7 linked regions of the Homo sapiens genome follow. The protein of the gene in region 6 purifies or fractionates together with the protein of the main gene of each other region. This does not show direct contact. Each region holds a gene or a part of one and is shown on either strand. Other genes may lie near its edges. The genes, in order: PIK3C2A, MAP3K21, TSPAN7, PLD2, CNTNAP1, HAVCR2 and GOLGA7.

The links.
Region 1: the proteins of HAVCR2 (region 6) and PIK3C2A purify together in Homo sapiens (affinity purification with mass spectrometry; 2 studies listed by BioGRID and IntAct, with this or other methods). This does not show direct contact.
Region 2: the proteins of HAVCR2 (region 6) and MAP3K21 purify together in Homo sapiens (affinity purification with mass spectrometry; 2 studies listed by BioGRID and IntAct, with this or other methods). This does not show direct contact.
Region 3: the proteins of HAVCR2 (region 6) and TSPAN7 purify together in Homo sapiens (affinity purification with mass spectrometry; 2 studies listed by BioGRID and IntAct, with this or other methods). This does not show direct contact.
Region 4: the proteins of HAVCR2 (region 6) and PLD2 purify together in Homo sapiens (co-immunoprecipitation; 3 studies listed by BioGRID and IntAct, with this or other methods). This does not show direct contact.
Region 5: the proteins of HAVCR2 (region 6) and CNTNAP1 purify together in Homo sapiens (co-immunoprecipitation; 3 studies listed by BioGRID and IntAct, with this or other methods). This does not show direct contact.
Region 7: the proteins of HAVCR2 (region 6) and GOLGA7 purify together in Homo sapiens (co-immunoprecipitation; 3 studies listed by BioGRID and IntAct, with this or other methods). This does not show direct contact.

The regions. Positions count from the first base shown.
Region 1 is NC_000011.10:17,166,487-17,169,986, reverse strand, and holds part of PIK3C2A (phosphatidylinositol 4-phosphate 3-kinase C2 domain-containing subunit alpha), read left to right. Parts: intron 1-180; 5' UTR 181-245; coding exon 246-1,310; intron 1,311-3,500.
Region 2 is NC_000001.11:233,326,259-233,330,523, reverse strand, and holds the start of MAP3K21 (mitogen-activated protein kinase kinase kinase 21), read right to left. Parts: upstream 2,801-4,265; 5' UTR 2,496-2,800; coding exon 1,691-2,495; intron 1-1,690. UniProt on the Homo sapiens protein: Negative regulator of TLR4 signaling. Does not activate JNK1/MAPK8 pathway, p38/MAPK14, nor ERK2/MAPK1 pathways.
Region 3 is NC_000023.11:38,666,042-38,669,541, reverse strand, and holds part of TSPAN7 (tetraspanin-7), read right to left. Parts: intron 3,422-3,500; coding exon 3,233-3,421; intron 1-3,232. UniProt on the Homo sapiens protein: May be involved in cell proliferation and cell motility.
Region 4 is NC_000017.11:4,820,541-4,823,930, reverse strand, and holds the end of PLD2 (phospholipase D2), read right to left. Parts: intron 2,139-3,390; coding exon 2,024-2,138; intron 1,292-2,023; coding exon 1,067-1,291; 3' UTR 501-1,066; downstream 1-500.
Region 5 is NC_000017.11:42,685,531-42,689,030, reverse strand, and holds part of CNTNAP1 (contactin-associated protein 1 precursor), read right to left. Parts: intron 3,075-3,500; coding exon 2,890-3,074; intron 2,129-2,889; coding exon 1,985-2,128; intron 1,312-1,984; coding exon 1,050-1,311; intron 570-1,049; coding exon 420-569; intron 156-419; coding exon 1-155. UniProt on the Homo sapiens protein: Required, with CNTNAP2, for radial and longitudinal organization of myelinated axons. Plays a role in the formation of functional distinct domains critical for saltatory conduction of nerve impulses in myelinated nerve fibers.
Region 6 is NC_000005.10:157,106,245-157,110,354, reverse strand, and holds the start of HAVCR2 (hepatitis A virus cellular receptor 2 precursor), read left to right. Parts: upstream 1-1,310; 5' UTR 1,311-1,371; coding exon 1,372-1,429; intron 1,430-3,392; coding exon 3,393-3,728; intron 3,729-4,110. UniProt on the Homo sapiens protein: Cell surface receptor implicated in modulating innate and adaptive immune responses. Generally accepted to have an inhibiting function.
Region 7 is NC_000008.11:41,497,082-41,500,581, reverse strand, and holds part of GOLGA7 (golgin subfamily A member 7), read right to left. Parts: intron 3,074-3,500; coding exon 2,921-3,073; intron 1-2,920. UniProt on the Homo sapiens protein: May be involved in protein transport from Golgi to cell surface. The ZDHHC9-GOLGA7 complex is a palmitoyltransferase specific for HRAS and NRAS.

The sequences.
Region 1 (3,500 bases), on a different chromosome or scaffold from region 6:
CCCAACAGTGTATAAGGTGTTAAGTGTTCCTTCACCCAGATTTTATCTGTTTTATTTTGTTTATTTTGTAGTATATTTTTCTAAGTGGCTTAAAGTCCAAAGTCATATGGGGTAGGTTGCAAACAAAATATATTTATGTTTAGAAATCTAATTGAGTGTTATGTTTATTTTTATGTATAGGCCTTGCTATTTTGGAAGCTACAAGAAAAAAATAGAGGAAGGAAGGTTTGGTCTTTTTAGTGGACATGGCTCAGATATCTAGCAACAGCGGATTTAAAGAATGTCCATCTTCACATCCGGAACCAACAAGAGCAAAAGATGTGGACAAAGAAGAAGCATTACAGATGGAAGCAGAGGCTTTAGCAAAACTGCAAAAGGATAGACAAGTGACTGACAATCAGAGAGGCTTTGAGTTGTCAAGCAGCACCAGAAAAAAAGCACAGGTTTATAACAAGCAGGATTATGATCTCATGGTGTTTCCTGAATCAGATTCCCAAAAAAGAGCATTAGATATTGATGTAGAAAAGCTCACCCAAGCTGAACTTGAGAAACTATTGCTGGATGACAGTTTCGAGACTAAAAAAACACCTGTATTACCAGTTACTCCTATTCTGAGCCCTTCCTTTTCAGCACAGCTCTATTTTAGACCTACTATTCAGAGAGGACAGTGGCCACCTGGATTACCTGGGCCTTCCACTTATGCTTTACCTTCTATTTATCCTTCTACTTACAGTAAACAGGCTGCATTCCAAAATGGCTTCAATCCAAGAATGCCCACTTTTCCATCTACAGAACCTATATATTTAAGTCTTCCGGGACAATCTCCATATTTCTCATATCCTTTGACACCTGCCACACCCTTTCATCCACAAGGAAGCTTACCTATCTATCGTCCAGTAGTCAGTACTGACATGGCAAAACTATTTGACAAAATAGCTAGTACATCAGAATTTTTAAAAAATGGGAAAGCAAGGACTGATTTGGAGATAACAGATTCAAAAGTCAGCAATCTACAGGTATCTCCAAAGTCTGAGGATATCAGTAAATTTGACTGGTTAGACTTGGATCCTCTAAGTAAGCCTAAGGTGGATAATGTGGAGGTATTAGACCATGAGGAAGAGAAAAATGTTTCAAGTTTGCTAGCAAAGGATCCTTGGGATGCTGTTCTTCTTGAAGAGAGATCGACAGCAAATTGTCATCTTGAAAGAAAGGTGAATGGAAAATCCCTTTCTGTGGCAACTGTTACAAGAAGCCAGTCTTTAAATATTCGAACAACTCAGCTTGCAAAAGCCCAGGGCCATATATCTCAGGTATAGTCTTTTCTTACTAACTTCTCAAACTTAGTATAACACAGAGTTCATATTTGTGTACATAATTTGTGTTTTTTTGTTTTTGTTTTTGTTTTTAAGAAGGAGTCTCGCTCTGTCGCCCAGGCTGGAGTGCAGTGGCGTGATTTCGGCTCACTGCAAGCTCCGCCTCCCAGGTTCACACCCTTCTCCTGCCTCAGCCTCCCGAGTGGCTGGGACTACAGGCACCCGCCACCACACCCGGCTAATTTTGTGTATTTTTAATAGAGACGGGGTTTCACTGTGTTAGCAAGAATGGTCTCGATCTCCTGACCTCGTGATCCACCCGTCTCAGCCTCCCAAAGTGCTGAGATTACAGGCGTGAGCCACTGCGCCCAGCCCATAATTTGTTAAGAAAAAAAAATATTTTTCACTTTGAATTTTGTTTTTCTTTGCTCTCAAGTGTGCTTTGATTCTTTGCTTGTGTGGCAAAGGATGAAATGTGATTAGGCCAATTGAAAAATTGCTTGCTATTAATATTTTTCTAGGATTGTAAATAAAAAGCCTCTAATGAAGGAACTGGCTGTCACTGAGAGGCATTTAAGATATTTTAAATTTGTCTGTCCATGTCTCCTCATTACATATGCTCCCTTCTTTCTCTTCCTTATTCCTGTTTTTTTTTAAATGCAAATAAGAAATTTTGGTTTTTAGCCCCATTATAGAAATTCTCACGCATTTTGTTTTGTTGTTTTTAACCATGAATCAATGAATAAATAACCCCAGAGAGAAGAGCAATTTAAAGGACTCTCCCTTTAAACACTTTTGTCGATAAAAGTGAAGAATGAAATATTACCATTGCAGATTTGTGTTTTGCTTTTATATCTGTGTATCCTGGGAATGTTTAAGCCTCATTCTCACTTTAACGTGAATTAATATTCAGCTAATTAGATCAGCACTTACCTACTATTTTATCATTGGGAGTTAACTAGCATTTAGATGGGGAAGGGAGGGATGGATTTTGCATGATTTGGATCGGTTTATGTTGAATTGTTGACTTTATTTATTACTATTATTATTTTGAGATGAAGTTTTGCTCTTGTTGCCCAGGGTGGAGTGCAGTGGTGCAGTCTTGGCTCACTGCAACCTCCACCTCCCAGGTTCAAGCGATTCTCCTGCCTCAGCTTCCTAAGTAGCTGGGATTACAGGCATGTGCCACTACACTGGCTGGTTTTGTATTTTTAGTAGAAACCGGGTTTCTCCATGTTAGTCAGGCTGGTCTCGAACTCCCGACCTCAGGTGATCAGCCCACCTTGGCCTCCCAGTATGCTGGGATTACAGGCGTGAGCCACCATGCCCGGCCAAATTGTTGACTTAAAAAAAAAACATTTTGGATGTCTGGAAGGAAGAGAAATCGGTGTTAAGAAGGTTTAGACAGCATGATGGCTCATGTTTATAATCCCAGCACTTTGGAAGACTACGGTGGGAGAATCACTTGAGCCCAGGAGTTTGAGACCAGCCTGGGCAACATAATGAGAACCTGTCTCTAACACAATTACAAAAAAATTAGCTGGGCGTGATGGCATACTCCTGTGGTCCCAGCTACTTGGGAGGCTGAGGTGGGAGGATCGTGTGAGACCAGGAGGTTGAGACTGCTGTGACCCATGATTGTACCACTGTACTCCAGCCTGGGCGACAGAGCAAGACTCTATCTCAAAAAAAAAGGGGCAGTTGGGGGGAAGGCACTGGTCCCCCTAATTTTCCCATCCTGCAGGGCCCAGGTCACTGCTGGATTCATATTCGGGTCAATTTCTAATAGGCAGATGACTCCCCAGCTGTGGGTCTCTATTTTATAGGTTTCTCATGAGAGAAATGAATTCTGTGTTTAGTGCCTGGAGTCAGGATTTGAGATGTAGTCTGGATTTAAGATGTCAGCTGTTTATAGTTGTTTGGGAAGGGCAACTGCCTTGAACCTGGAGACAGACATTGGGGCTCTGATAAGTTAGTCTTGCTATCAAAGAAAAGGAAGCCCCTTGTCTTGTAGGGAGCTGCGCTTAGGCTCAAGCCTTGCACTGGTAGAAGGCAGAGCCCCACAATGAATGCATTGTAGCTACAATAGATTGTCTTGAAGTTAATACAGATGTTTATAAATTACCTTGATTAATTTAATTATATCTTAAATTCTGAACTTCCCATTATTGAAAAGTCATTTACCTA
Region 2 (4,265 bases), on a different chromosome or scaffold from region 6:
AATAGGGCTTATGGAACACATGGACAAGTCACCCATTCTATGGCAGCACCTGGTCAGACGTTTCTTTTATTGAAAAAAATATATATATATTATCGAAAGAAAAGTATATTTTAGGAAATTGCGCTCTGTTTTTACTGTAACACAGTTCAAAAGCAAGCAATGCTATAGTCCTTCATGTGGTCTGTCAAAGTACTAAGAATACACCGCTACCAGTAACAACATATTTTGTTAGACTTTGCTCTCATCACCTAAGCAGATGCAATCTAAATTATAGAGAGACTTGGGGGGAAGGAGGATCATGAAATAAAACCTAATGCTTATGCTTAGCTACAACATTCCAATTATTTACAATTCCCAGTGAAAATGCTACATTAGTAATTTTCAAGTAAATTTCTTCTTGTCACTCTTCTTTAGGGACAATGTTTTCACTTGAGCTAGCTCCTGTCCTAGCAGGTTTCACAGGATTGAAAGACCTCCAGCTGTTGTAGGCCAATGCCAGGGCTGGCTGCATCCTTTAACCTTCCCTGGGATTTCATCTCATTATAAGAATATGAAGCGATCTTCAATATTAAAGAACCAACATCAAACAGCAATTCTATAGGCTCTTTTATACAGCAAAGTTTCATAGGATTTGCATTTAAGTCATTTGTCAGTTCTTTATTGACATCTGGAAAATCCACCCTGATTTATAAACAAAGTCAATGACACTGGCCAGGTCTTCAAGGTTTCAAGTACCTGTGCAAGGACAATGCACTTGTTATTAACCCAAAAGTGCATTACGGTGCACACCAGTGCCTCTTGTCTGGAGAAAAGAAGCCATTGAACCAATAATAAAATCATATTTCACGTAGAGACACTTTTTTTTTTTTTGAGACAGAGTCTCACTCTATCTCCTAGGCTGGAGTGCAGTGGCGCGATCTTGGCTCACTGCAACTTCCGCCTCCCGGGTTCAAGTGATTCTCATGCCTCCGCCTCCCGAGTAGCTGGGATTACAGGCGCCTGCCACTACGCCGGGCTAATTTTTGTATTTTTAGTAGCGACAGGGTTTCGCCATGTTGGCCAGGCTGGTCTCAAACTCGTAACCTCAGGTGATCCGCCCACCTCGGCCTCCCAAAGTGCTGGGATTACAGGTATGAGCCACCGCGCCTGGCCCATAGAGAGACATTTGAATGAAAACAGTCTTTGGAAAAGGTAAGAGACATGAAGTCATATTTTGAATAGGCAAACAGCAACCTCAATACAGCACTTGTAAAGTTGACGTCCCCGAGTGCATTCGGGGACTTTGATGAAGGCCACCGGGTGAAGACGGTCATGGGTTCCATATAATCTGCAGAAGGCCTCGGTTTGCAAAGTCCTACCCAGATGAATCACCTCTGGTATTGAAAGGCCAGACTGCCCCCTGAGGTTTCTAGGAGATCCAGGTATTTTACAAATGTTTCCTCTACAAGCAAGTCTGGTCTGAACTTTTTTAAAAAGCACCCAAAGGCAAGTCAAGGTTAAGCGTGTCACCAGCCCCAAAGCAAGTAACCAAGGACTAGCTGGACTTCCGAGCCCTGAAGGCCTGGGCATGAGTTGCTGCTGGCGCCCTAAGGCTGACTCCCACCTCTTTCCATCTGGTACTATGTCCTGTGGAGCCCGCCTGGGCTGGCACGGAGGTAGTCTTCCCCCACCTCCCTCTGGCCCCACTTACTGTTGCTGGACTTGAGGTCCCGGTGCAGGATGGGCACGAAGGCCTCCTCATGCAGGTAGAGCATGCCCCGCGCTATCTGCACGGCCCAGTTGACCAGCACGTGCGGAGGGATGCGGCGCGCGCGGCGGGGGCCGGGCGCGCGCGGGTCCGGGGCGGCGTTGGCAGCGGCCAGCGCTCGGTTGAGCGCTCCGCCGCGGGCGAACTCCAGCACCAGGCAGAGGTGCGGCTGCTGCAGGCACACGCCGCGCAGCTCGATGATGTTGGGGTGCCGCAGCATGGCGAAGAGCCGAGCCTCGCGCCGCACGCTCTCGGCAGCCGCCGCCGCGTCCTGCTCCGGGTCCTGGCGCGCCGCCTTCACGGCCACCTCCTGGCCCTGCCAGGTGGCGCGGTACACCTGCCCGAAGCCCCCAGCGCCGATGAGCTCCTTCAGCTCCAGCCGCTCGAAGGCGACGTGTACCGGGGAGCTGGGCCGCGAGGGCGGCGGCGCGGGGCTGGCGGCCGGGCGGCAGGGAGCCACGTAGTTGGCGGGGAAGATGCCGAGGCGCCGCTGCACCTGGCCTGCCCACCAGCCCTCGTCGCCCGACACGGCGGCGTCCTGCGACAGCACCTCCACCAGCTGGCCGCGCCGCAGGCTCAGCTCGTCCTCGCCGCGAGCCTCGTAGTCATAGAGCGCGGCCCACAGCCCCGCGCCCGCCGAGGCCGAGCCGCCCGAGGAGGTGGACGACGAGGACGCTGAGCCGCCGGGGGCTCCCCCGGCCGAGGACACCGGGGTGTCGGTCGCTCCCGCGGCGCCCCGCAAAGCCATGGGGGCAGCTGCGCGGGGAAGGCGGAGCGGGAAGCTGGGCTCAGCCTCCCGGGCGGCCGCGGGCGCGCATCGTCCGGCGGTGTGGCCGTCGGCGCCGGGGGAAGGCGAGGGGGTAGGAATCGCGATCGGTGACGGCAGAGATCACGGGCTAGCTGCCCAAAGGGTCCAGCCTCGGCCCGCGTTCCTGGCCAGCCGCCTCTGCTGCCGCAGCGGTCCCCGAAGCCGCGGGCGACGTCCCACCATGGTCGTGCCCAGGCCCTGCGGCCGGCCCGCCCGCCGCGCGCTCCTTAGCCAGAGCCTGGGACGCCCCACCCCACCCTAGCCGCGCCAGGGCCGCCCCGCCCCCTCCGGCTCCATTCCGCACCGCCCCCCCACCCCCCCGGGCCCGCCCCTAGGCCAGTCCCCAGGGCCTTCCCGCCCCTCCCCCAGCCGCCCCGCCCTCTCCAGGTTCATTCCGCCCTCCTTGACCCGTCCCGGGCGCCCAGTCTGCGCCCGCCCTATGGGACCGCCTTCCTAGGTTCGCCCCACCCTTCCCCACCAACTGCACCATCCCGCCCCGCCCTCGCCAGGTTCACTTCCCTTTTCTGTGCCAGTCCCCAGAGCCTCGTCCCGCCCCTGGCGCCCGGGCCCGTCCCCCACCACCTTGGGCCGGGCCCGCCCCCTGGGCCCGCCTGGCTGGTCCCACCCCGCCCCCGCCGCAGGTGCTCCGGAGCAATGGTGAGCCGCGCCCACATGGTCTGGGAGGCGGGATCGGCCGTCATCCGCTATAAATTTTCGGGAGAGTTTAAATTAAGCCAAAGGTAAGACTGAGGGAGGGGACGCTTCTCCAAGAAGCGGTGGGAGAGGGTTGAGAAGATGTGGGGCTTTAGGGTGTGGCGGGGAGAGAGAGAGTTGCAGTTCAGGGAGAGTGACAGAATCTCAGAACGGGCTACAGAAGAAATTGTAGCGCGGTGCCAGACCTGGGCCAGTGCGAGTGGCAAGTCACCATGCTAAGTGCGTTTGAGCCACCGTGCATCTCAGAACTGACTAGGTTACAGATCGCAGCGCAGAGTGACCCGTGGTCGGTATAGTCCCAGAAGCTCCATGATGGTAAATCCTTTGCTTATTTTTACTGTCTACTCAGATGGAAAATGCCCCAGTCTCCCTGGAAACCCACAGGTTTGGGTTTAGGAAGCATTGGCAATGGCTGGGTGCCAGACGTTGGTAGGTTACTGTGGCAGGTGATGAGGCTAAAAAGATAGAAGAGCTTAGTTATTAAAATTCTAAAATATTAGATTATCCTGTAGTAGGCCAGAATTTCCTAACGTGTGGATCCTGTACTTCCAATAACAGAAGGGACAATTTTAGATATTATGAGGATAGGACATACAGTAACATTCTGAGTTACATAAAGATAAATTTATTGTCTTTTCAGTTTTCTTTGTCTCTCAGATCAAACTATTTATTGGCTGTGTGACCTTGAGCAAGTTTCTTTATTTCTCTATGACTCAGTTTTCTCATCTATAAAATGGGAATATAATAAATAGTACCTACTTTATAGGGTTTTTAGGAAGACTAAATGAGTTAATAGTTTTACAGTGGGTCTTCTGCATCCACAGAATCAACCAACAGCTGGTCAAAAATGTTTTTTAAAAACCCAAAAAATAACAATACAAATAATACAAATAAAATACAGCATAACAACTATTTACAGAGCATTTACATTATATTAGGTATTATAAGTAATCTAACTATTTAAAGTATGGGCATACTTTGGAGATACTGCAAGCA
Region 3 (3,500 bases), on a different chromosome or scaffold from region 6:
TTGGGACGAGCTTGTACTAAATACAGGTCAGTAGGGGTTAGAGCTTTTTTCCCAAATGTAAACATTGGAGTTGAAATAGTCCTAGCTTTGGAAGGAAACATACAAGGGTTCAAATCCCAGCCTTCCATACATTAGCTGTGTGAATTTGGGTGGGTTATCTAAACCCCCAAGTTCCTATCACATTATATGAAAATATAACCTACACTGCATGGTGGTAGTGAGGAGAAAAATAAAATATCATACGCACCCAGTATAGCCTCTATCACATAAAAGGACCAAATCATATTTTAAAAATTTTATTGTTTTTAACTAACATATAATAATTGTACATATTTATGGGGTACAGTATGATGTTTTGATACATGCATACTCTGTGTAATGATCAAATCAGAGTAGTTAGCATATCCATTACCTAAAATATTTCTTTGTGGTGGGAACATTCTAAATCCTCTCTTCTAGCTATTGCTAAATATGTAATACATTAACTATAGTTACCCTACTATGCAATAAAACACCAGATAATTCCTCCTATCTAGCTGTGACTTTGTACCCATTGGCCAACCTCTGCTTCTCCCTCCTCCCCTGTCTCTAGACAAAAAAAAAAATAAATGCTGATGAGGATGTGGAAAAGGGAGAACTCTTATACACTGCTGATTGGAATGTAAATTAGTACAACCACTATGGATAACAGAGTAGAGGTTCCTCAAAAAATTAAAAGTAGAACTACCATATGATCCAGCAATCCTACTGCGGGGTATATACCCAAAGAAAATGAAATCAATATGTTGAGGAGATAGCCACGCCCCCATGTATATTGCAGCACTATTGACAATAGCCAACCTAAGTGTCCATACACACTGGACACAATGTGTCTATACACAATGGAATACTATTTGGCCATAAACAAGAATGAAATCCTGTCACTTGCGACAACATGAATGAATCTAGAGGATTAAGTGAAATAAGTCAGGGAAAGAAAAGACTAATAACTGCCTGATCTTACACATATGTAGAATCTAAAATTTGATCTAAAAGACATTTTTAAAGACCCAAATTAAGCCCCAAACCAAAAAACTTCTCTACTTCCCAAAATGCTCACCTGCCAGTGAACTTGTGTTAGGAGAAGAAAATGGTAGTGTGGTGTGAAGCCACCTCCAGAAGAGGCCAGAACTAACTATTCCATTGTTTATACACATATCCTATTTTATGACATTATACTCAGCTATGGGATACTTCTGCCCCACAAGCAAATTGAGAATTAGAACATAAAAATATCACCTCTCCCACCCCTCTCCAGTCATAGTATTTGGGCCGGGAGAAACTTTGGTGATTTAGTCCAATTCTATTTTGTTACAATTGGAGACAAAGGTCCAAGGAGGTTACATCCTTGCCGCTAAAGACTTTAAACAGTTAGTTGGAATCAGTCAGGTCTCAACACCACATCACTTCCCTTCTTGTTTGAATGGATGGTTTTTTAGAATTTTTTCTTTTCTCTGCTTTTGAAGTTAATTCTCCCCTTGCTACTCATTGTGCTAAACAAAAGGTTCTCAATACTGGCTACAAGATTGAATCCTCTGGAGAGCTTTTTAGAAAATAAGATGCCAGGGCCTCACCACCACTGAGGAGTCTACTTCAACCAGCTAGTGGTGGGATGCTGGCAAAGGTTTTTGCAAATGGCTTCCCAGGTGATTTAATCATGTATCTGGAGTTGAGGACTATGGCACTAGACCAAAAGAAACCCTAGTGTTTATGAGAAGTACTAGAAGGTAGACTCAGGGTGTTAGAATAGAGTGCCAGGTGACAGCAGCAGAAGCCTGGCCCATAATCAGGATGGGCCTCATTATGGCTTGCCCATCAACCTGAAGAATCAGTGGCGGCTGAGGCATCAGCCTCCTGTATGGTCTGCAGGATAGAAAATGGCAAAGTCAAGCACCACTTCTATGAGGTTGACAACAGAGACTGACTGCCCAGTGCCAGTTGGGAAGATGGTTCCTTTGGAATGAACCACTCTCACACCCACATATATCACTAGATGGTATTAAATGTTACTACAACCTAGGGCTACACAGGGACAGGCAACATGGCCCTGATGGAATCTTTGCTTCTCCCTTCACGGAGTAAGATGCCTGAAATAAATATTTTTAAACAAAATTTTATTTTGAGGACAGGTCCTTGCTAATTTTTATCTATAAAATCCTTTACCATTAATCCCCATCAGTGAAGAACATGAACAGTGAATAGAGAATTAGTTAACTGCTGTACCTAAAAGTTAAAAATCACAGTAATAGCCTTTCAATAGTCTGCCCTTATCATCTGGGAAGCATCACTGCTTTATCTGTCCCATGAGAGTATGCACCCTGCACTGGTCCTGGTAGCCAACACTTGACACTGCATAAGTCCTCTGGGTGGCAGGCTCTGGCTTAGCTCAACTCTCATAGCACTGAGACAGGGAGTACAGGTTCAGAGAAGACCACACACATGCATCCATGCATGGCCAGGCTCAAGGAGGTGGAAAGTATTTCTCCAATAGGAACTTGGAGGTGAAAGTCTGCTTATGTTCAGGATGCTGCCTTGCCACCAAAGCTGCATATCACATGCTTAAGGAGACTTCTAAGATATAGTTCAAAATTGAAACAGGGCGAGGCCGGGCACGATGGCTCAAGCCTGTAATCCCAGCACTTTGGGAGGCCGAGGCAGGTGGATCACGAGGTCAGGAGATCAAGACCATCCTGGCCAACATGGTGAAACCCCGTCTCTACTAAAAATACAAAAAAAATTAGCTGGGCGTGGTGGCGGGCGCCTGTAGTCCCAGCTACTTGGGAGGCTGAGGCAGGAGAATGGCATGAACCCAGGGGGTGGAGCTTGCAGTGAGCAGAGATTGCGCCATTGAACTCCAGCCTGGGCAACAGAGCGAGACTCCATCTCAAAAGAAAAAAAAAAAAAAGAAAAGAAACAGGGCATCTTGTCATGAGGATACAAATGGACTACTGCAATCACTGGCCACTGCTTTGTCATCATCTACCCAGAGGGACTGGGACTAGATTTAGTGTGCCAGGCTGTGTTTGGGGTTGTTTTTACCTCTAGGGGATTAAAGGATGGATTAGGAAAGAGTCTGGACTGAAATTGTTAAGGTCTTGTCTGTGACCTCAAGACGAACCACTTCACCTCCATGTAATTTATATTTTTACAAAAATATAGTTGAGAAAGCAGTATTATGTTGTGACATACTCACCAGTTTCAGCATCCATGGGCTACCACGACATGTAGCAAAGCATCCAAACAGGCCAAAGACAACAATAGTGGTGCCAGTTCCGATGAGCACATAGGGAGCATTTGTGGAGTTCTCGGCAATAAGGGAGATATAGGTGCCCAGAGTAAGTTTGCCCCAGACTCCAACAGCCAGCAGGATCACCCCAGTGATCTGAAAGAGGGAGAGGAGAGTGTGAAGCTATTGCCAAGAGAGGTGAGAATCAGCACAGAGCAATGTGGCCAAATTTGAA
Region 4 (3,390 bases), on a different chromosome or scaffold from region 6:
CTAGTCATGTAAGTATTATTCCCATTTCCCAGCGGGGACCACTGAGGCCCAGAGAAGTGAATGACTTGACAAGTTCACCTAGCTTCTCATTGAGGAGTCCAGGATTTGGGTCCAGGTCTTCCTGACCTTAAGCCTATACCCTCAACCACTCCCACAGGGCCTTCATTAAGCCTCTACCAGGGCTGTTGCTTGAACAAGAGGCAGCCTCTCTAGGTCCTTCTCAGAGCATCTCCCTCACCTGCGGTTGTGATAGCAGCTCCACAGTTCTCCAGGTGCCCTGGTTGGGCCCTGCCCGTCCTTCTACCCAGGCGGCACTGTGTCAACACCTTCTCCTCTCAGGAGCCAGGTGACCGAGCTCCCGAAGCCACAGATAGGTAGAACAGAGGTGGAGAGAGGAGAGTGGAGGAGGGTGGAGATAAGGTGAAGGGGACTGGTGCCCCGTGTGGGCAGGAACGGGAGGCTGGAACGAGCAGTTAGTTCCTCCAAGGAAGACGCATGAACCTTTTCTACACCTTTATTTATGAAATGCTTATTGAACGGATACAAAGTTAGTGTCTGTCAGCAGGCTGGTGGAGGGAGTTAATGTGCCCTCCTTCCTTCCCCTGGTGGGGGCTGAAGCCAGAAGTGGCTTTATCCTTCCCTCCACCTTGGCAGCAATGGGCTGGGAGGGCCCTGGGACAGGGAGGGGGTTCAAGGGCAGGAAGAGGAAGGGAACAATGGGTAGTAGGGCCTGGGGCAGAGCCCCCTTCTCCTGGAATAAGAGGCTTGACCCTGCTCACCCTGGCAGGAGCTGTGCTTCTCCTTTGCAGCATGGAGAAGTGGTTTGCACTGGGCAGCAGGGGGGATGAGCTCTGGGACTCTCTCCTCCTCCCCAGCCCAGGGTTGGGAGTGCCCTTTTCAGCTATTTCTCACGTAAGGGTCCTCTGTAACACCTCTAGTTCCCTTCAGGAATGCCTGCCTCCCCAGATCTCAAAGGGCACTGCCCTCAGTCCTTGGGGTTAAGGGGCAGGGAGCCAGACGTGGTGGGGCACAGCAGCTGGTGACCTCTCCCTGACGGGGGCCTCAACTATGTCCACACTTCTAGGGGGATCATGCCCTCCTTGCTACCCAGCGGGGGCAGCAAAGACTCATCCTCTAGGAACTTGAGGGGGAAGTGGACCAGGTGGCCCTGGACCTGGGTGAGCTCAGACCGAGCCAAGGGGGGACTGACCGTGGCCAAGGGCTCCACGGCCACGTACTCCCGGAGAGTCCGCAGGGAACGCGTGGCATTGGATGGCAGGCAGCGGAAGATCTGTGGGCGGGGGCATGGACGCCAGTAAGGCTTGGGGAGACTCTCCCAACAATCTAAGTCCAACTAGGCTAGACCCCTTCCCCCATACCATCTCTCCATACCCCCCGTTGACCCTGGGCCACTAACTCTCTCTCTCTTTTTTTTTTTGAGACGGAGTTTCACTCTTTTTGCCCAGGCTGGAGTGCAATGGTGCGATCTCGGCTCACTACAATCTCCACCTCTCGGGTTCAAGTGATTCTCCTGCCTCTGCCTCCTGAGTAGCTGGGATTACAGGTGCCCACCACCATGCCCGGCTAACTTTTGTACTTTTTTTTTTTGAGACAGAGTTTTGCTCTTGTTGCCCAGGTGGCTGGAGTGCAATGGCGTGATCTCGGCTCACTGAAATCTCTGTCTCCTGAGTTCAAGAGATTCTCCTGCCTCAGCCTCCCAGCCACACCTAGCTAATTTTTTTGTATTTTTAGTAGAGATGGGGTTTTGCCATGTTGGGAGGCTGATCTCAAACTCCTGACCTCAGGTGATCCACCGGGCCTTGGCCTCCCAAAGTGCTGGGATTACAGGCATGAGCCACTGCACCCGGCCTGGGCCACTAAATCTCTTGATAGCAAATGTCCCCAGGCCCTCATCCCCCTTCCAATAATGACTGTATGGTGGCGCTTCTCTCCATCCTACCCTGAGCAGGATAATCCACAAATTTCCCCAGGCCACTCTCCCCCACCCCTCCCAAGTTCCCACCTGCTCATAGATATTGGCGTTGCTCTCAGCCATGTCTTGCCACAACTGGAAGAAGTCATCACAGATGGGGTCTCGGAGATCCAAGTCTGGCCGGGTATTTGCTCCAAGAATCACACTATAGGAGAAAGGGGTCCCAGCAGGGCCAGATTAAGATCCTTAGAGAACCTGAGTACCAGAAAAGTTACATTGTCCCTACTCAGGTAATTCAAAATTGGCTGGGTGCGGTGGCTCACGCCTGTATTCCCAGCACTTTGGGAGGATGAGGCAGGTGGATTGCTTGAGCTCAGGAATTCAAGACCAGCCTGGGCAATATGGCAAAACCCCATCTCTACAAAAAAATACAAAAATTAGCCAGGCACGGTGGCATGTGCCTATAGTCCCAGCTACTTGGGAGGCTGAAGTGGGAGGATCACTTCAGCTGGCGAAGTCGAGGTTGCAGTGAGCCGTGGTAACGCCACTGAACTCTAGCTGGGTGACAGAGCAAGACCCTATCTCAAAACAAACAAACAAACAAAAACAAAATAAATGCAATATAAAATAGTAAAATAAGTGTAAAAGAAGCCAACAGAGTTCTGATTTGTCTTGACTTTGATGACTACCTTGATGCTTTAAAAAATTATTTTTATTTTAAATTTTCTTCTTTTTCTGTTCTTTCCCCAATCCTCAGAACCTGTGAAAAAAATTACTTTTAAAAGATTTTTTTTTTGGCCGGGCACGGTGGCTCATGCCTGTAATCCCAGCACTTTGGGAGGCTGAGATGGGCGGATCACGAGGTCAGGAGATCGAGACCATCCTGGCTAACACGGTGAAACCCCATCTATACTAAAAATACAAAAAATTAGCTGGGCATGGTGGCGGGCGCCTGTAATCCCAGCTACTCGGGAGGCTGAGGCAGGAGAATGGTATGAACCCGGGAGGCGGAGCTTGCAGTGAGCCGAGATCGCGCCACTGCACTCCAGCGTGGGTGACAGAGCGACTCCGTCTCAAAAAGAAAACAAACAAACAAACAAAACACAAAAGTTTTTTTTTTTTGGCCGGGCGTGGTGGCTCATGCCTGTAATCCCAGCACTTTGGGAGGCGGAGGCGGGCAGATCACGAGGTCAAGAGATCTAGACCATCCTGGCTAACACGGTGAAACCCCGTCTCTACTAAAAATACAAAAAATTAGCCGGGCGAGGTGGCGGGTGCCTGTAGTCCCAGCTACTCGGGAGGCTGAGGCAGGAGAATGGCATGAACCCTGGGCGGCGGAGCCTGCAGTGAGCCGAGATCGCGCCACTGCACTCCAGCCTGGGCGACAGTGAGACTCCCTCTCAAAAAAAAAGAAAAAAAAAAAAGATTTTTTTTTTTTTTTGGCCAGGGGCGGTGGT
Region 5 (3,500 bases), on a different chromosome or scaffold from region 6:
TGTATCAAAGAGGACCTCAGCATAGAATCCAAGCCGCCGGCCCTCCACCAGAGTCAGGTTGACCAGTTGACCATCCACCTTGAGCAGCTCCATGCAGCCATGGAATGCCGTCTGGTTGGAGTGGCAGTCCCATCGACTGGCTGGCTTGGGACAACCTGGAGCAACCACCCCTGTGAGATCCTCCCCAGGGGAGACCCCAAAGACCCTCCCCCAGGGACATGCTGAGGGGGAGCCAGACATAAAGGAAGAAAGGGGACTACAACCAAAGTGTAGATGGCAATGACCTTCCACTCCCTGAGGCCCCAGAGGGGAAGAGGGCTTGATCCCTCCAAAATTCTCCATGTGGCCCCATCTGGGTGGACTTAGATGGAGCCTTCCCACCCAGAAACAGAGGTCTGGTCAGGTTGGCCCCCACTTACCCCCAAAGAAATATGAGGTCCCTGTCCGGATCAGCAACGGGTATGAGACCCTGACCTCTGCCCCTTCCACATCATCAATGCTGATAACTGCATGGTTTTCCTGTGCCACAAAATTCACCTCGTGCCAAAAGCCGTCATTCAGTCGGTACCCTGGACAAGAATGGATGATGGTGTGGGTGGAGGGAAGCAGCAACTAGGGTAGAAGAATGTTCTGAGTGGGGAAGCAGCAGCCCCACTGTGTCCCAGTAGCAGCCTGTGTGCCCCCGTGATTACACTTCTCACACCCAGTGGAGACCTCTCTGAATGTCTCTTCATTATCCATGACCCAGCAACTGCCACAGAGTCTGCACAGTTATAAACGAGTAACCAAATCTCCAGGGGCCTTCTGGAACTGGAGAATACCAGGACTCCCAGGCTTCCCCCTTCTCCAAGAATACTTAGTCCCTCAGATTCGCCTCCTCACTGCCTCTAGCCACTCCCACCTTTTCCCAGTACCCTGGGGCCTCCTGCCCTGCCCCCTTCACTCCTCTCCCCTCTCCAGAATGTAAAGGCCTCAGTCCAGGCCTACAACTTTCCTGGGATCCTCTACACTTCTCTTCTCTTCTTGTGCCTCCCCCGAAACGCCCTCACCAGCAGCGAACTGAAGCTTCTTTCGGCCGCTCTGCGCGATGGACACGTTGACCTGCCCTTCGCTGAGCGTCAGCTCCACGTGGCCCAGCCCGTCCCCCAGACGGGAGAAAAGGAGAAGCCCGGTGAGGTCCCAGGTGCGGAAGCGAAATGAGACTGCCAGGCGGCCACGGCGTGGGAAACCGGGCACTTGAACGAAGTTGTGAGGGCCTCCGAAGTTGATAGGGTGCGGTACCGGGTCCAGGCAACGAAAAGCCACCTTACCCTAGGGGCAAAAGTGAAGACGCATCAACACCCGTGAGCCGCCTCTGCCTCAGCTGGGAATTCAGTTTTCACACCGGTCTAAGACCCTGGTCACCGCCCTCCTTCGGTGTTGGCGGGGGTGAGATCTCCAACCATGACGTGACCTCTTCCCCTCCAAGCTCGTCCATCTGTGGAGGGGGCCCCAACCCAGTCGGCCCTCGGAACTCTGCTCGCTTGCTCTCGCTGATCTCCACCGTCTGCGATTCGACCGCTTCTCTCCTTCCAGTATCGAGAGGCAATTTTGGACCACAGACCTGGCTCCTGCCAGCTTCCCAACAGAGCTCCAGAGTCGGAGAGGGTTGAGGGGGGCATATCAGAGAAGCCATCGGTTCAAGTCCCTACTCAGCCACCGTGCAGCTGCACGACCCCTGGACAAGCCACTCCCTGTGTCTGCGCCTTACTTTCTTCATCTATGAACTAAGAAGGTGATTGGACCCGACCACTGCTTCTTAACTAGGGGCCTGCGTGGCTCATGCACCTCAGGTGAGACCCGCTCCCCTCCCAACTTGAGCATCTGGCTGGGGACAGAGGGATTCTCCGCTTTTATCTGATGTTCAATATCTCTTCCCGCTCCACCTCTTTGCTTTCCACGACGCTTTGATATCCTGTCCTCCCAGACCCCCCTGCCCACTGGCCTCGAAGGTGATCCGGGAATGGCGCCGCACGGCCAGGTCTGCGATGTTGACGCGGTTGAAGATTACGTTTTCTATGCAGCCGCGGAAGTTATGCCGATAGGCCAGGTTCTTCCGCGCGGCGCCCACCAGACCTCCGATGAACATCTGCGGGAGGCGTGGGGAATGAGGCCTCTTGGGCACAGGAGGGCGCCTGCCTTTCTCGCGCGTCCCCGCCGTATGCTTTCCCAAATGCCAGATGGGGTTTTGTAAAAGACTTAAAACACACATTTCCCCAGTGTCGGTACTAAAGCTCGCTAGGCCTTTCAAGGCTTGAGTTCAAGCTCTGACTCCAACACAAATCGGCTGCACGCCCTTGGGCAAGTCAATTAGCCTGCCTGGGATTCTTATCTGCAGATGGGGTCAGGGTCTTTAACAACTCCACAAAGTTGTGGGAGGATCCAAGGGAACAATTTTCCTACCTTGCCTAGTCCCCAAAATCTGAATTTCCAAACCCCATCTCATTAGTTCTGAAATAGTGCCTGGGAGTCTGCATGCTAACAGCAACAACACCCACAAAAAAAAAAAAAAAAAAAAAAAACAGGCCTTTTTCTGGTGAGTGGCAAGTTTGCCAAGGGCTGCTAGGATATTCAGGAATTGGAATGCGAGGTCTTTGAAAAAAAAAATTTTTTTAAATAGAGGTAGGATGTCACTATGTTGCCCAGGTGAGTCTTGAACACCTGGCCTCAAGCAATCCTCCCACCTCAGCCTCCCAAAGTGCTGGGATTACAGGCATGAGCCACCACCCACAGCCTGAATGCCAGGTCTTTCCTCTGAGAGACAGAGGAAAAGAGAAAGGGAGAGACCGACCTGCACTCACTCATCCAGCATCTACCCTACCACGAAATAGCACCTCCCTAGTCTCTCACCTCAGTGTCCAGGTTCAGCCTCTCGAAGTCTCCATTGAGAATAAAGCGCTGCACATAGCCGTCCAGGGTGAAATTTACATCGCGGCCAAATCGGTCCACCCGCACATAGTGCCAGTGCTGGTCATTGAGGACTCCGCCTGCGCTCACGGTGGTGTGACCTGGTCTTGGCTGGATAGGGCTGCTGCCTGAGGGTGGGGCAGGACAGAGTGAAACCTCAAGCCAGGAGAACTCCATGGAGTCCAAGCTCCTAGGCAGAGCAGCAGCGTGTAACAAAGCCCAGGGCAATCAGGGAGAGTGGGCGAATAGATCAACAGCCATTGGCGAGTGTGTGACAGGGTAAGCCATTTAGCCTGGCTTCCTGTCTGTAAAACTGGGAACACATGAGCTGCTTCTATTTCATGTGCGGGTGTTATGAAAAGCTAATGAGATACAATGTGTGTGCGTCTGTGTGTGTGTGTTTACAAGGAGGGAACTGAGGCTCGGAAGTGCCCCATCCGAGGTCACATCTCTGTGTAGTGGTAGAGCTGAGACTGGAATCCAGTTCTCACTCAACTCCAGTGTTTTGCTAGCACCAAATGCTACAAGAAAGGGGCAGTTTGGTCCAGGCCTTA
Region 6 (4,110 bases):
TTGCAGTGAGCCGAGATCATGCCATTGCACTCCAGCCTGGACAAAAAGAGCGAAACTCCATCTCAAAAAAATAAATAAATAAATAAAAATAAAATAAAATAAAATGAGAAATTGATTATGATCTCTTGAGTAACTGCCACTCTGCAATGCTATGGGAAGTACACACATTGAACAAGTTGCATATTTATATTAAATGCCATTTGTTTATATTGAACAAATTTGGTATTTATACCCAATGCATTTAATGGCATAAATGTGAATGACAAAGAAACTCAGGAAGGCAAGACATAGAGGAAGGCCACTGGCTTTTCAGAAACCACTCAGCCTGTGAGCTCACTTCCCTTTTATAAAAAAAAGCTTTTGCTTTTAAGGTGTCCAGATAAAGGTCACACTCCCAGAGCTGAGGCTACGTGAGTCTAAGCTGTTACCTCAGTTATGGGAGTGTGGCTGGAACTCAACACTTTCTGATCATTCATGGCCAAAGCCTCTTGGGGTAGGGGAGAGGGGGCACCTTGTATGCATGAGATGAAACAGGATACCAAGATCCCCTTAATTCTACTCAGAGTAGAGGAAAGGAACTGTTGCCAAAAGGAACATGTTTTTTCTAAATTGAAGAGTTGGAAGTTTGAAGGTCAAAGTCAGAATATTAGAACAGAGAGCCATGCATGTATTATCTAATACAATTTTCTCATTTTATAAATTATATAAATGAGGAAACTGAGACTCAGCAAGGTTATAGGATACAACCTAATCTGTGTTAGAAGAAGGATGAGAGTGAGGCTTATGCTGGGAGTTGCTATGGTCTGTAAATGTGAGGATAAGGAACATGCCATTCACTGTTGTGTTCCACTTCCTAGTCCAGTGCCTGGTGCAAAGTAGGGGCTTCATAAACTTTGGTCACAGGCCTGATGAAGGGACTGATTTGAGTGAATGAATCCATGGATGATGCATCTGTACTTTGTGTTCCCCGCTAGTCAGATGGACTCGGACATGCTCCATTTCAGGTGTATCTCATCTGAGACATTATTAGAGGGTTCTCTTTATGTGCCATGACTGAGTAGCGTTTTCTTCCACTGAAGTATTGCTTCCTCTTTGTTGATATCACAGGACAGACATCAGAACACTTACAGGATGTGTGTAGTGTGGCATGACAGAGAACTTTGGTTTCCTTTAATGTGACTGTAGACCTGGCAGTGTTACTATAAGAATCACTGGCAATCAGACACCCGGGTGTGCTGAGCTAGCACTCAGTGGGGGCGGCTACTGCTCATGTGATTGTGGAGTAGACAGTTGGAAGAAGTACCCAGTCCATTTGGAGAGTTAAAACTGTGCCTAACAGAGGTGTCCTCTGACTTTTCTTCTGCAAGCTCCATGTTTTCACATCTTCCCTTTGACTGTGTCCTGCTGCTGCTGCTGCTACTACTTACAAGTAAGTCTCGGCATGGATATTTACAATGACATAATGGTGCTGTACAGAGGACAAGGGAGAGATACAAGGATGGCCATTGTAATGTTGTTTGTAATAGCAAAAGCTTGGAAGCAACCTAAATGTCCGTCGATGAGGGAGTGGGTAAATAAATGTGATATAATCATGATACAAACAGTGAGTCTGACAAAACATACTGGTATAGAATGTCTCAAAATTATAATGTTATTAAAGAAAAAAAGTTGCAGAATAATGCATATATTAGGCTTCTATTTGTGTGTGTGCATTGTCGGGGAGCAGGAATATGTGGACATTTCTTAATGTATAAGCTCTAGGAAAAGGAACCAGGGAATGGTAAAGAGTTGGGAGAGTAAGGCATATTTTTCTTTTCTTTTCTTTCCTTTTTTTCTTTTTCTTTTCTTTCTTTTTCTTTTTTTCAATTGAGATGGAGTCTCACTCTATTGCCCAGGCTGGAGTGCAGTGGTGGCACCATTTTGGCTCACTGCAATCTCCGCCTCCCAGGTTCAAGTGATTCTCCTGCCTTAGGCACCGGAGTAGCTGGGATCACAGGCGTGCACCACCACACCCAGCTAATGTTTTTAATTTTTAGTAGAGACAGGGTTTTACCATGTTGGTCAGGCTGGTCTCAAACTCATGGCCTCAAGTAATCTGCCCATCTCAGCCTCCCAAAGTGCTGGGATTACAGGCGTGACCCACCGTGTGCCCGGCCACTTTTTCATACACCTTTGATAGTGTTTGAATGTTTTTACTGTAGTTGAGTCATATGAAAACAAAGGGGACATAAAAAATCAAAAGAAAATATATAATGAATGTTTTATCATATATAAAATATATATAGTTTTTTTTTAATGGAATTAACTTTGTCATTTGAGGAAAATGAGGAGACAAGTCTCAATCATTTTAGGAGATTTGTTTGCCAAAGTTAAGGAGGCACCTGAGAGACAGGTCTATGACTTTCTCAGAAGATGATTTTGAGGGCTCCAGATTTAAAGGGGACAAGGTGGGATATTGAGAAGCACTCAGTTTTCACATAAAAAAGGGGGGGGGGCAGAGGAAAAATATGGGGAATCTGCATTTTACATTAGATAACACAGACAAAATGGGGTAGGGAAACAATCAGATAACGCATTTGTGTCTGGCCAGGGTGACCGCACCGGTAAAGATGAGCTATCAATCTGCATTGCACAGCTGACCAGGAATTTCCTTGTGGGCAAAATATGGGGGAGGTATGCAGCCTTTCATCCTGTAGCCATCTTATTCAGGAATCAAAAAGAGGAGGCAGGTTTCTGTGACCCAGTTCCCAGCTTGACTTTTCCCTTTGACTGAATGAGTTTGGGGTCCCAAAATTTAATTTCTTTTCACAACTTTAAACCTTAAAACAACTCCATGAGTAGTTTCAAATACACAAGATCCTTATTTAACCAAGGGTTTGTATTTACTGTGCACTTGCTGCTTAAAAAGAGAAGTATGTTAGGAGAGCCTCCCTTTGTTGATGAACAAGCAAGTAGCCCAGATGGGCGGGCCGTTTCCTGGCTGACCATGACTAATTTTCTGATTGTCTGTTTCCATCAGCCCTGTTCTCCCGTGTTCACAGAATTGGGCCACAATTCTCTCCTAGGGCAGTGTTTCTGAAAGTGAGGTTCTGAGACCAGCCACTTCAGCAACACTTGAGAACTTGTTAGAAATAAAAGTTCTCAGGCTCTACCACAGGCCAACTGAGTCAGGAACTCTAGCAGTTGAGCCCAGCAATCTGTGTTTTCGCAAGGCTTCCCAGTGATTCTGATGGCCTTCACATCTGAGAAGCATTGTCACAGCGAATCATCCTCCAAACAGGACTGCAGCAGTAGCTTCCTCTTTATTCTGTAAGACATGGCTTGCAGTTTTCCTGAAATGGAGTAACCTCACTCACCGCTTGAGTCTTGGCTCTCCTTCTCTCTCTATGCAGGGTCCTCAGAAGTGGAATACAGAGCGGAGGTCGGTCAGAATGCCTATCTGCCCTGCTTCTACACCCCAGCCGCCCCAGGGAACCTCGTGCCCGTCTGCTGGGGCAAAGGAGCCTGTCCTGTGTTTGAATGTGGCAACGTGGTGCTCAGGACTGATGAAAGGGATGTGAATTATTGGACATCCAGATACTGGCTAAATGGGGATTTCCGCAAAGGAGATGTGTCCCTGACCATAGAGAATGTGACTCTAGCAGACAGTGGGATCTACTGCTGCCGGATCCAAATCCCAGGCATAATGAATGATGAAAAATTTAACCTGAAGTTGGTCATCAAACCAGGTGAGTGGACATTTGCATGCCATCTTTATGAATAAGATTTATCTGTGGATCATATTAAAGGTACTGATTGTTCTCATCTCTGACTTCCCTAATTATAGCCCTGGAGGAGGGCCACTAAGACCTAAAGTTTAACAGGCCCCATTGGTGATGCTCAGTGATATTTAACACCTTCTCTCTGTTTTAAAACTCATGGGTGTGCCTGGGCGTGGTGGCTCACACCTCTAATCCCAGCACTTTGGGAGGCTGAGGCCGGTGGATCATGAGGTCAGGAATTCGAGACCAGCCTGGCCAACATAGTAAAACCTTGTCTCCACTAAAAATACAAAAAATTAGCCAGGCATGGTTACGGGAGCCTGTAATTCTAGCTACTTGGGGGGCTGAA
Region 7 (3,500 bases), on a different chromosome or scaffold from region 6:
CACATCACTCTCTTGATTAAATCCTTTGAGTAGCTTCCCACTTGCACTAAAAATAAAATCTACACTTCATTCCATGGACTAGGCACTCCATGTTACAGCTCCTGCTTACCTCTCCAAATCCACCTCCCATCATTCTCTGCCCCTCCTCTCCTGTGCATCACCTTCTCTCAGTTCCCAAGGTCCATCAAGCTCTCTGGGCCTTTGTGTATGTTCATCTTTCTGCCTTAATGCCCCAGGCTTTTCATCCTTCATGCAACAGCTTAAATGTCACCACCTCAGAGGCCTCTTCTGACCACACACCCTAGATTAGGTCCCGCTTATTATTTTCAAGCATAGGCCAGTTTGTTTCCTTCAAGGCACTTATCATAATGTGTAATTTTGCTGGCTTTGTTTCCTTGTTATTATCAGCTTTCACCACTTAATTATAAACTCCACAAGGTCAGCAACCATGTTCGCCCTGTTCCGTTATGTCCCAGCACTTTGCTTAGCACATAGTAGGCTTTCAATAGTTACTGAGCAAACAAATCCCCTGAGCCTTCACTCACTGAACGTATTATTAGAGAGGAGATACACTGAAACAGACTGAAAGCTGACATAGAGCCTTGATAACTTCTGATTTTGAAAGTTTAAACAGGAATGAAAGCTTCTCTGTGTATTGATATGGAAGGGAAGAGCACGGTCCCTTTAAATCATACAGAAGCAGGCAGGGAAGTGCTGGGTAGAGAAGGGCATGGTCCCTGGCTAGCGCTCCACCTCCAGGCCTGTGCCCAGTAGTGAAGACAGACATTTTTGTTTTCCTGCCCAAATGCTGCATTTCCACCCTGGCCTGCCACACCCCTATCCTGTGCCTATAAAAGCCCTGAGACCCCAGCAGGCAGACAAACAGGTGGCTGGATGTCAAGAGGTGCACATTAGTGGAGGAACACACAGGGTGGCTGGATGTCAAGAGGAACACACTGGCGTAGGAGCACACTGGCACACCGGTAGGCCATCAATTGGCAGAATCAGGTGGAGTTTGGCCAGGGTGGTTGGAGAAGAGTTCGGTCATCGAGCGGCCTGACTCCAGGGGAAAACTATCTCCCTTCTGGCTCCCCCATCTGCTGAGAGCTACTTCCACTCAACAAAACCTTGCACTCATTCTCCAAGCCCACATGTGATCCGATTCTTCTGGTACACCAAGGCAAGAACTCTGGGATACAGAAAGCCCTCTGCCCTTGTGATAAGGCAGGGGTCTAATTGAGCTAACACAAGCCGCCTATGGATGGCTAAACTAAAAGAGCACCCTGTAACATATGCCCACTGGGGCTTCAGGAGCTGTAAAACATTCACCCCTAGACACTGCTGTGGGGTTGGAGCCCCACAGCCTGCCCATCTGTATGCTCTCCTAGAGGTTTGAGCAGCAGGGTACTGAAGAAGCAAGCCACACCCCATCACACGCCCTGCGAGGGGGACAAGAGAACTTTTCCTGTTTCAACATGGGGAAGGATATAAATAACTATACTTAAATATACCTGTTTATATGAGATGGAACAGGATGGTAATGAAGAATACAACAGCATTTTCAGCCAACAGCTCCAAAAACTTTAGCTGCAACTATATGCACTCTCCACTACATGGAGTGTAAGACATTTCTATCAGATGGGTCATAATATATTCTTATAGCATTTCGTTTTCTAAGCACTGTCAGAATTTAGTGATATACCAGGGGCTTACCATGATTAATTTACAGTCATTTATTTAACATACATTCAATGAGTGCCTGATATACCCAAAGCATGGTGTTAGGCATGAAGAGGGATACAAAATGGTTAAGGCATTGTCCTCAAGAAAAGTACATACTTGAAAGGCAAATAAGACAAGAAAATAAACTGCTACATTCCAAAGAAGAGTGAGGCAAGTGCCAGAAAACAGATACAAATAAAATGTTGTAGGGACACAAGAGAAGAGAAAGAATTCTGACTAAAACAGAGAACAAGTTAGATGGAAGTGAGACCTAAGGGACTGGTGGGATTTGAACCTGGGAAGATAGCATTCCAGGTGGAGGAGAACCACAGTGGGTATGTTTGCTGACCAGTGAGGGATGGAGTTTGGCTGAGGGAGAAAGTGAAGGAAGGAATGGGAGGTAGCGCTGGAAAGGTAAGCTGAGGTCAACTTGAGCAGGGCCTTGAATTTTACTCAGTGGTAAAACATGGGAATCCAGGGAAGGTCTCCGACTTGGCAGAAGTAGTAGGGGAAGTAAATCTGCGCTTTATAAAAACAACAGCAGATAGTTTAGAAAAGCAAAAGGAGGGAAGAAATGAGACAAGTCAGACTATTTCAATAGTCTAGGAGAGACAGAATAAGGGCATAACCCAGGATAGTGGCAGAGGAAATCACAAAAAGTTAATGACTGGGAAAATGAAAGATACTTCAGTCTTTGAAAACAGATTAATTTTTCCCTCTTCTTCATCCCTCATGCCCAAAGATGGTACTGAAAAGACAGGGGTGCTATTGACAAAATGGGGAGGTGGGAGGTTTGACTTCTGGTCATCTTAAGTTGAGAAATCAGCAATTCGGGAGCTAGTAGGCAGCTGGAAAGAGAAAGTAAGAACTCAGGTGGGAGAAGAGAGTGAAATTTAGGGAAATAAAGTAAAAACATTCCCAGAAAGCTGAGTAGGAAGAGAACATATAGATTTTCTACATTCTTCTTAAGTGTAGGCCAGTCTGAACATTGACACATCATCTGCAAGTGGACATACCAACTGCAACCTGTTTTGAAAGACTCAGGACTATGTGCCTCTGTACACAGGAACAACACAATTTGAATGATAAATGCCCCTAAATATTTTACGGCAACTATCACCATGTAAGCATCAATGTGTAATAAACTTGCCTTCTTCATGATTTTAAGAGATTTTTGTGAAAACAAATGTAGCATTACCTTCTCATAATGAGTTTCCATGCATAGGAAGATGGTATATGCTGTTAAACAAGCCAAACAACCTTCGAGATATGACTGGCCGCCGAGCTTCTCTGCTTCTGCATAAAGGTTATTTAGAGTTCGAACTGTTTCTTCAAACTGCTGCCTATCAATCTGTAGAGAAGAAAATATTTAAAAATTAAGTTTTGGAAAAAAAAAATCAACTAATGCATGCTATCATTAATTTATCTTGTTTTCTCACCATTCTTAGTTGACAATTTTTTTGGTGACTAAATCTGGGCCTAAGTTACCAAAACTGCTTAATTTGTTTAATTTTATCCCTCTTATAAATACTGGATAGCTTCAAGGCTCAATAAGGTACTTCTTTATTCTTTCTACTAAATTTCAAGTAACTTTAGGCTCTATTCCTCTTTCCATTCATTTAGTTTCACACTTACTGAGCGCCTACTATCAGATACTATGAAAAATCTCAAGATAAAGCACTGTCTCAATCCTTAAGAGTTTAATTATGCAAGCAGAACAGGCAATGTAAACATAAAAATGCAGTAAGCTGGCCAGGTGCGGTGGCTCATGCCTGTAA